Regions from separate parts of the Homo sapiens genome. Here all the other regions are linked to region 2. Evidence: fine-mapped expression QTL. A gene starts in region 2. Each other region holds a variant in brackets. All regions are shown on one strand. Distances are from middle to middle.

Region 1 (2,739 bases), 22 kb before region 2:
CTTACTAAAAAAAACTAACCCGCAAAATTAGAAGGGCTAAGGAAAAATATATTTGCTGGTTACATATAATGGTAATAGAAAGCTAGTAATTAAATATAATTCTCATTAGAATTACAATATAGCCTTTGAATATTCTATTAAATAAATGAATTCAATTTAAGTTTCATTCTCAAATTAATTTTATCACATTTGATTGGCCCAGTCCATTACACAAAAAGACATACTGACTAAATACAACATAATTTCTATAACCTGAGGGGACTCGCACATCATTACCTGATTGCTTGCTGACTTGGCTGTTGATTGGTTTCATGACTTTGAAGCTTCCCTCCTATGACAATTCTTCCTCCCCTAAGGACTTCCTCATTGCTGTTTCTTCATCTTGCCCTAAGAGTTCTCTCTCTTCCATAAACTTCCTTTCCTGGGATGACCTTCTGTCATATGTTGTTCTTTGTAGGTAGCCTCCATCTAAAAGCAGCTCCCGTGTCTGTGACATGCTCTGCTCCAGGAATTCAGAGGCCTCCAGTGACTCTGTCATTGCTCCAGGACCACCAGGCTCATCCTCGGGTTCTGGAGACTGATGTGTGTCTTCCCCATGCTCATACATACACAGCCTCTTTTCAACCACCTCACGGATCAACACTGAAAAGTTAAATGTTCAGACATCACTATGATTTTCATATTATGGTATATTTCAGGAGTTATAATGCTCACTTATAGATGATTACAAAAACCTTCACGAAGCCTCATCTCTTTCCTATGTCATAACCTTTTTTGGAAGTCAGCATACTTCACACTTAATGCATTAAATATAAAATATATTCTGTTTTCACAGAGTATCATTTATAAAGTAATGGCAGAAGATATTAATAGATAGCAAATTATAGAAGAGCCAAAAATAATATTGAGGGTAAAAATTTGCACTTTTATTAATACAATTGATATACTAAAAGTTTAAATATTCAAACTGTAAAATTAATCTTTCTTTCAGTTATTCAATTTATTCTTTCTACTAAAAACTTTAGAGATGAATTTTTGGATAAAATAACTTACTGTCAAGCACTGTTCTTCCCACCATGCTATATTCCATGGTTTTTTCAACTTCATTCATTAGCCATGGAAGAAATCCTATCTCAATATCTGTAATAAAAGAATTCATTGATTTTCATGTATTATCAGAGGAATAATGCGCTTTTCTCTTAATGTAATAGACTCATCAACATTGGTTTCTTAATATAAAATGTTAAGTAGACTCATACAGCATAACTTTTGCCATATTCCTTATATATGTTCTGGTCAGTTTCCTTTCTGTTGCATAAGTGATTTTTTATTTTTATTTTTTTATTTTTTTTGAGACAGAGGTTTACTCTGTTGCCCAGGCTGGAGTGCGGTGGCGCGATCTCTGCTCACTGCAACCTCCGCTTCCC[A/G]GGTTCAAGTGGTTCTCCTGCCTCAGCCTTCTGAGTAGCTGGGACGACAGGCACACGCCACCACACCTGGCTAATTTTTGTATTTTTAGTAGAGACAGGGTTTCACCATGTTGGCCAGGATGGTCTCAATCTCCTGACATCGTGATTCACCCGCCTCGGCCTCCCAAAGTTCTAGGATTACAGGTGTGAGCCACCACACCTTGCCCAATATTTTAAGAACTATGAGGCCTTCCTTGGAGTCAAGGCATTTGGAGTTTCCTTCATAGGTGCAATCTGAGATGGATCAGGGAGGCAGGGGGAGGATGTGGGTTTGGGAGAACTCCAATCCAAATGCAATGCAAATCTGGGATTGAGCAATGCCAGTAAAAGAAAGTCTCCACCTGAAGCCCAGGGCCTAATGGAAGGAAGCTGATCAGACTCAGAGAATGCAGTGAGAGGGCATTTGAGGAGGCAGTCATCTAGAAATAGGTCAGAAACTAGGTGTTTCCATCAGTATCAAGTTTGTTCAAACTGAAATCTACTGTGTAAGCATTTTAAAAATATGGTCTATTACAATATACATTTTAAAGTTTCAAAATAGCATTTTTTGGGGCAGGCATCTAATTTTATTTTTCAATAGGATGAAATGGAGAGTGATAGAATATTATATTCACTACTATAAATAATTTTTATCTCAGGTATGAATTTCATTTGCAAGCTTTTAAATGATCTATAACTTACTTTTTTGGTAATCTGTGATAGAAAAAAGGCTACTGGTCTCTCTGGCTAACAGTTAGAGTCCAAGCTAGAGCCCAGGACAGCAGGATGATAGCCGAGAATGAACACTGGACTTGGAGTCTGAGTTCCAAGTCAGTTTGAGGCCTAATATTTCCACTGCCTGAGGATTTGGGAGCAAGGCATTTAACTTCTCTGAGCTTCAGTTTCTATTTCTGAAAAAATGGGAATTCTATCTGACCTGTCTATCCTACAGGGTTATTGAGAGTATCAAATGATATCACCTATGAAAAATACTATGTATATTAATAATATTTGTCTGTGATCTGACCTCTTTGTATTGAATTGAATATGTAATCAGTGAAAATTATCATTACTAACATGTGTCCCAAGATACTACTGGCCAACAAAATAGGACCTATACACCAAGCACGGTGGATGTAAGTGCTTTTCACTCTGAGGAAGGTGGGTGGTGGTGAGGACATGCAACTCTTCCTTTCCACTGGCTGAGCAGCTAGGAACGTGGACTTTGAGGGGATACAGACAGACAGCTATCAGGCTATGGGCTCCCTAGTGGCAGAGATCAGGGATCCTTCTT
Region 2 (2,741 bases):
CTCATATCACTAAAAGTTAACTGATGCCCAACCCATGCCCCTTCCTGCTTCACTCCTCCACACCACGGGAGATTCCTTAGGGCAGAACTTTTATTTCGGCAGAGTGCAGCCAAGGGAAGACAGCATAAGCAGCTTTTTTGCCAGGGCGAAGGGGCCAGACCCCGGCCTGGGGATGGGGTGCAAGTATGGACCACACAGGGGCTGGCTTGGTCACTCACGGCTGCGTCAGGCTGTCCCGGTAACGGCTGCGCTGGCAGGGCAGTGCTCGGGGCCGGCTGGTGTAGGTGTAGGTGCTCGGGGCCCGAGAGGTGCGATCAGTCAGCGCTGAGGCCATGTCCGGGGGCTGACTGCCTCGCTTTCGGTGGAGCTTGGCTTTGAAGCAGGTGGGCGCTAAGGTGTTGTGGGACCCGGAGAGATGTAAGTAGTGCCAAGGGCAAGGATTCCGCGACGCGAGGAGAGGCGACAACAAGGGAGGCGGGCGGGACGGGAGGTTACCAGCGCAGGAGGTGGGAGCTATACTGGGCTCGCTCCCAGCACCACAGAGACCAGCTGCGGGGGCCGCATCGGTTGCCCAGCAACCCAGGGTTCTGTCTGGGGGCGGGAACTCCGGGCAGTTCCGGTCCCCAGGTTTCCCGGGAAGGACTGCGGCACAAGGGACTTCCGGCTCTTGACTCCGCCCAGCCGCGCCACCCAGGTAGGTGCGCCTGCGCTTTGCGAGGTTCCTGGCTAGGGAGGCGGCCTTGGCTGGCTTGACCGTCATCCTTGAGGCCTGCGGGGCAACGGTGGCTGTCCTTGGCCCGGCTTTGGAATGTGGCTTTGCAGGGCTGGTGTTGGCGCCATTCTCGCAGGCCCACGTGCTCCTGCTCTTCCAGGGTGTCCTCGGCTGTTTCTCCTGCCGCGGCGCAGCAGCGCTCCCAGGCTGCCCCCGCGATAACACGCCCCTGGCAGCCAGGCTCCCAGCTCTGTTACGTGCCCGGGCGGGGAAGAGCTTCCTGGTGTCTCCCGGCTCCTGCCCTTCTCCCGCCCCAGGGGCGGGCTGCCGCCGCCCTCTGCAGCTGAGTCAGTGCAGTTCCTCACCTACCTTCTCTGCTCACCGCTGTGTGCTAGCAATCGGAGGACCCTTGGCACACGGAGCGACAGGGGCCTCCCCCACAGACACCTCATTTTGGGAAAGAAGTGAGCAATTTATTGAGTCTTAAAAAATACAAAGGCATAGTTCCCCTTAATCTATCAGGCTTCCAGCTCTAAAGAATGTCTCTAGTATTGCGGGGTGGGGCTGCGCTTAAAAACGCAGACGCTTTGGTTTTAGTACCAGCAACGTTAAAAATCTTCTATCTTGTATGAGTGAATGTGTATCCCTTGTGATCAGTTATTTGCATTTGCAGTTACACCTTCATTCAGCTAATTGCTGTCTTGATTTGAATCCAGGTTCTAGAATGTACTAGCTCCGAAACCTCAGGCAAGTTAAATGTTTTTGTGCTTCATTTTCCTAATCCACAAAGTGGCAATAGAAGAATTTATCTCTTTAGGTTTTGTCTTGAGGATTAAAACCGTTAATACTTAGAGCTGTGCCTGGTAAATGGCAAGCCTTTATATTAAGATCTGGACCGTTCTGTGCTTTGAAGTGTATGACCTAAAGCAGATGTAGGCATTCTATAAGTAACACTAGCATAAAGGTGTATGGTAAATTCTAGAGGTGAAAACACTCCCAACATATTTTAGGTCTGATCATTTAATTTTGAGGTAATTTCTGAAAGGGCTAGAGGAGAAAGTGACATTTAAGTTGTGTTTGATAAATGATAGTATTTTAACTGGCCAGCCTCTTGGGGGAAGTGCATTCGGAATGGCTTGATCAAAGGCTCAAGAAGCCCAAGGTGCATTTGGAAAACTGTAAGCAAGGTTTGTGTAGATGAGTTGTAGAAATATATATAGACAGGCTGACACCACATCGTGGAAACAGTAAACACTAGCATATTAATTAGAATATTTTTTCCCTCAAGTAACAAAAAACCAATTCCAAGTGGCTGAAATAATAAGGAATTCATTATTTTACACTCCCCAGGTTGGTTAACCTGGAGGGTAACTTGGGGGCTCAGCACATTATCAACAACACGTTTTTTCCCCTACCTTTCCACTCTGTCACCTGGGTTGTTGGCTTCAACAAAGTAGTAATAGAAGTATCTGCTCTTTTGTCTTTATTGGAAGAGCAAAACCCCCTCGTAAACTCCCAACTGACCAGAATTACATCATATTGATTTAAGCTTAGGATCTATATAAGACCACCATATTTGGATTAGACCAGGTAACCGGTCTTTCTAGGCCTCCAAGAAACACTTGGCCAGGGAGGAGGAGAACAAATTCTGTTAGGAGGATGTTGGGGCAGAATTGAGTGGGTATTAAGTGGGTAAACAATAGTGCTATACCAGCCACAGTGGGCTTTATAAAGAAATTGATAGCCACTATAGGTTCTTGTACAAGTTTCTTTCTTTTTTTTTTTTTTTAGATGGAGTCTCGCTCTGTGGCCAGGCTGGAGTGCAGTGGCGCGATCTTGGCTCACTGCAACCTCCGCCTCCCCGGTTCAAGTGGTTCTCCTGCCTCAGCCTCCTGAGTAGCTGGGACTACAGGCGTGTGCCACCCCGTCCAGCTAATTTCTGTATTTTTAGTAGAGGCGGGGTTTCACCATGTTGGCCAGGATGGTCTTGTTCTCTTGACCTGGTGATCCGCCCTCCTCAGCCTCCCAA
Region 3 (2,767 bases), 31 kb after region 2:
ACTCACTTGGAACTTACCTTTGCTGTCAAAGGTGTCTTATTTCTCTACTAGATTGTAAATTCCTTATACAAATGCAATATTTTTATATTGTAGGAGGCCAATATTTGTTACTAATTTATTTTGCTTAAAACTACTGTTGTATAATTGTAAAATTCTCACAGTGAGCATACAAATAATTGAAATACTCTTGAGACTGTTATCTACCTTATCTTTTTATTATTCCTAATCATATGGAACATTTTCAATGGTCTCATATTAAGTAGATAGTCTACTTTATCCTGCCTTTTTAATCATTGAGCAACTAAATTTGGATTTGTTTCGTTGTACCTACGATCTCTTTTATTTGACTTTTGTGTCAAGGCCTTGCAGTATCCATCTCCTAATTTCTTACTGATTTTGCTGGGAGAGGCAATTGGCTATAAAAACTGTATTCTTAGGTTCCTCTGCTGGTAAGAGTAGCCACGTACTGGCCGAGTGCGGTGGCTCACGCCTGTAATCCCAGCTCTTTGGGAGGCCGAGGCAGGCAGATTGCCTGAGCTCAGGAGTTCGTGACCAGCCTGGGCAACACGGTGAAACCCCGTCTCTACTAAAATACAAAAAATTAGCTAGGTGTGGTGGCATGCGCCTGTACTTCCAACTACTTGGGAGGCTGAGGCAGGAGAATGGCTTGAACCCAGGAGGCAGAGGTTGCAGTGAGCCGAGATCGTGCCACTGCACTCCAGCTTGGGCAACAGAGTGAGACTCCGTCTCAAAAAAAAAAAAAAAAAAAAAAAAAAAAAAGAGAAGCCACGTACTAAGTTCTGGCCTCTGGGATGGAGGTAGAGGTTATTGAGCAGAAAGTTCCTGCTTGGGATCTGGAGGGAAAGGTTGGGGGAAGAGGATCATGTTCCCAGAAAGGATGGTAGACTAGAAAGTTGAAGTTGTGCACAAGACTGGCTACATAATTTGCAGGGCCCAGTGCAAAGTGGAAATGCAAGGCTCCTGTTCTCAATTATTAATACTCTAAAAATGCCAATAGCAGAGAATTACCCTAGCATTGGGTCCACAGGTCATAGCCCCATGCAACTGGCTCTGAGTATGAAGGAACCCGGGGCCGGAGGAGGCCATGAGCCTTCATCCCAGCCCTGGGCTGCCAGTCTGTTCTTTTCATAGAGCGCACAAACCTCCTTCTTGGTTAAGCGTCTGTTGTCTGGGTTTTCTGTTACATGCGTTCCGTAACTGATGCAAGTTATCATTACCCTCATCTGATAGATGGAGAAAC[C/T]GGAGCTCAGACAGGTTTAGTGCCCTGTGCATGGGAGCAGATTTCGGGGTATTCACAGACTCAGGTTCTGTGAATTTGGGTCGTATATTCATTCTGTGTCAACACGTTGTCTTTCTTTTTCCACGGAGATGTTAACATTCTGCATTTCCTATTTCTGGCCAGATTTTGCATTCTGCAAGTTTGCTTGTTTCACAATGCCCCCCTCTTTGTAGCCTGTAGTAGGAGGAAGAACTTCATCCCATTTGTTTTTCCTCATTTACATTTAATTTTTACTCTGGAGTGAACATAATGCAGAAGTTCAGTCCACATTTAAAATATTGCTAAAAAGTGATTCACTTCCAATTCTAGCAAAACGTTTATACCTCTGATTCCTCAGTAATTCTCTTTTTGCAGAGGAAGAGTTAAGATTACATAATTTAATTAAAAAAGAAACTGGAAACATGTAAGATCGCATCCGATGTGAGTTTCTGTCTGACCTTTCAAGAGAGAAGCATGTATTGGCGATTTTTCCAGTGAGATCATGATCAGAAGAATTTATCTATCAATGTATACTTTTAATTTAGGATAAACCTAAGGATAAACAGTGTTTGTAGCTCTTTGCACATTCTATCTATGGCCATAGGATGTGCTATGGCCATTAACTGTCATTTGTTTTGTTAGCGCTAAAAACCATAGCTGCGACTTCAACTTCCTAGGGACCCCAGTGTAACACAGGTGTTGTATTTGTTGCGTTCAAGTTCTGGTGCAATCTTAGTTTTGCTAAGCTCCTGCAAAAGCACCTAACACAAGTCAACATTTCTGAAACAAGTTTTAATTTCTTTCAGTCCTCAGTAGTGCTGGTGTGTGGGTTGGGGGCATGGTGCACAGTGTGTCAGCACAGATAATCCGTGTATCATGGGTCATCCACCTCTCCCCCTCTTTACCGGAGGAGAGAGCATCTCCCAGGGAATCAGACCTGAATTTAAGTTTGAGCTCCTAATTAGGCTTCCAACCCGGTTTTACTATACACTTTGCATCAGGTACATCTGTGATTGTCCCATTTGTCATTAGTGTGGGCCCTTAGGAAGTCAATAGAGGACAGAACTCTGGTGTTCCTGGATCCTTGACTAAAGCATCATTTTATTGTCATCTAAATCTCACTAGAAGCCCTAGCTCTCTGGTTATGGTGAAATATTCAAATTATTGGCATATTCAAGGTATCATTAAGTAGTATTTTGAAAAACTTGGTGTTATGGGTTGAATTGTGTCTTGCCCTATCCAAATTCATATGTTGAAGTCCTAATCCCCAACATCTCAGAATGTGACTATATTTGGAGAGAGGGTCTTTACAGAGGTAAAATGAGGTCATTAGGTTGTGTCCTAATCCAGTATAACTGGTGTCCTTAGAAGAAGGGGAAATTTGGAGACAGACTCACGTAGAGGGAAGATAATGTGAAGAGACACAGGGAGGAGGCCATCTGTGCTAAGGAGAGAGCCCTGGAACCTATTCTCCCTCACAGCCCCAGA

What was found. PIP is the estimated chance that this variant, and not a neighbour inherited with it, causes the effect. A credible set is the group of variants that fine-mapping cannot tell apart.
Region 1: its variant is the best candidate, but not a certain one, in a credible set for the expression of RSPH3 in unexposed skin (GTEx, PIP 0.87).
Region 3: its variant is the best candidate, but not a certain one, in a credible set for the expression of RSPH3 in monocytes (TOPMed, PIP 0.56).

The regions. Positions count from the first base shown.
Region 1 is chr6:158,977,207-158,979,945 of GRCh38, forward strand. RSPH3 (radial spoke head 3) reads right to left here. Exons shown (of 8, transcript NM_031924.8): 7 at 1,054-1,140; 8 at 1-642. The coding sequence ends at 332. Among named protein-coding and RNA genes, the nearest start is that of TAGAP-AS1, 21 kb to the right of the region's middle. The variant A/G (reference allele first, on the strand shown) is at 1,428.
Region 2 is chr6:158,999,217-159,001,957 of GRCh38, forward strand. It overlaps RSPH3 (radial spoke head 3), which reads right to left and starts at 986. Exons shown (of 8, transcript NM_031924.8): 1 at 219-986. The coding sequence starts at 334. TAGAP-AS1 (TAGAP antisense RNA 1) reads left to right here and starts at 657. Exons shown (of 5, transcript NR_183546.1): 1 at 657-1,176. RefSeq lists enhancers at 1-700, 185-334, 355-404, 435-504, 675-834 and 2 more.
Region 3 is chr6:159,030,551-159,033,317 of GRCh38, forward strand. All of the region lies in intron 3 of TAGAP-AS1 (TAGAP antisense RNA 1), which reads left to right. Among named protein-coding and RNA genes, the nearest start is that of TAGAP, 13 kb to the right of the region's middle. The variant C/T (reference allele first, on the strand shown) is at 1,262.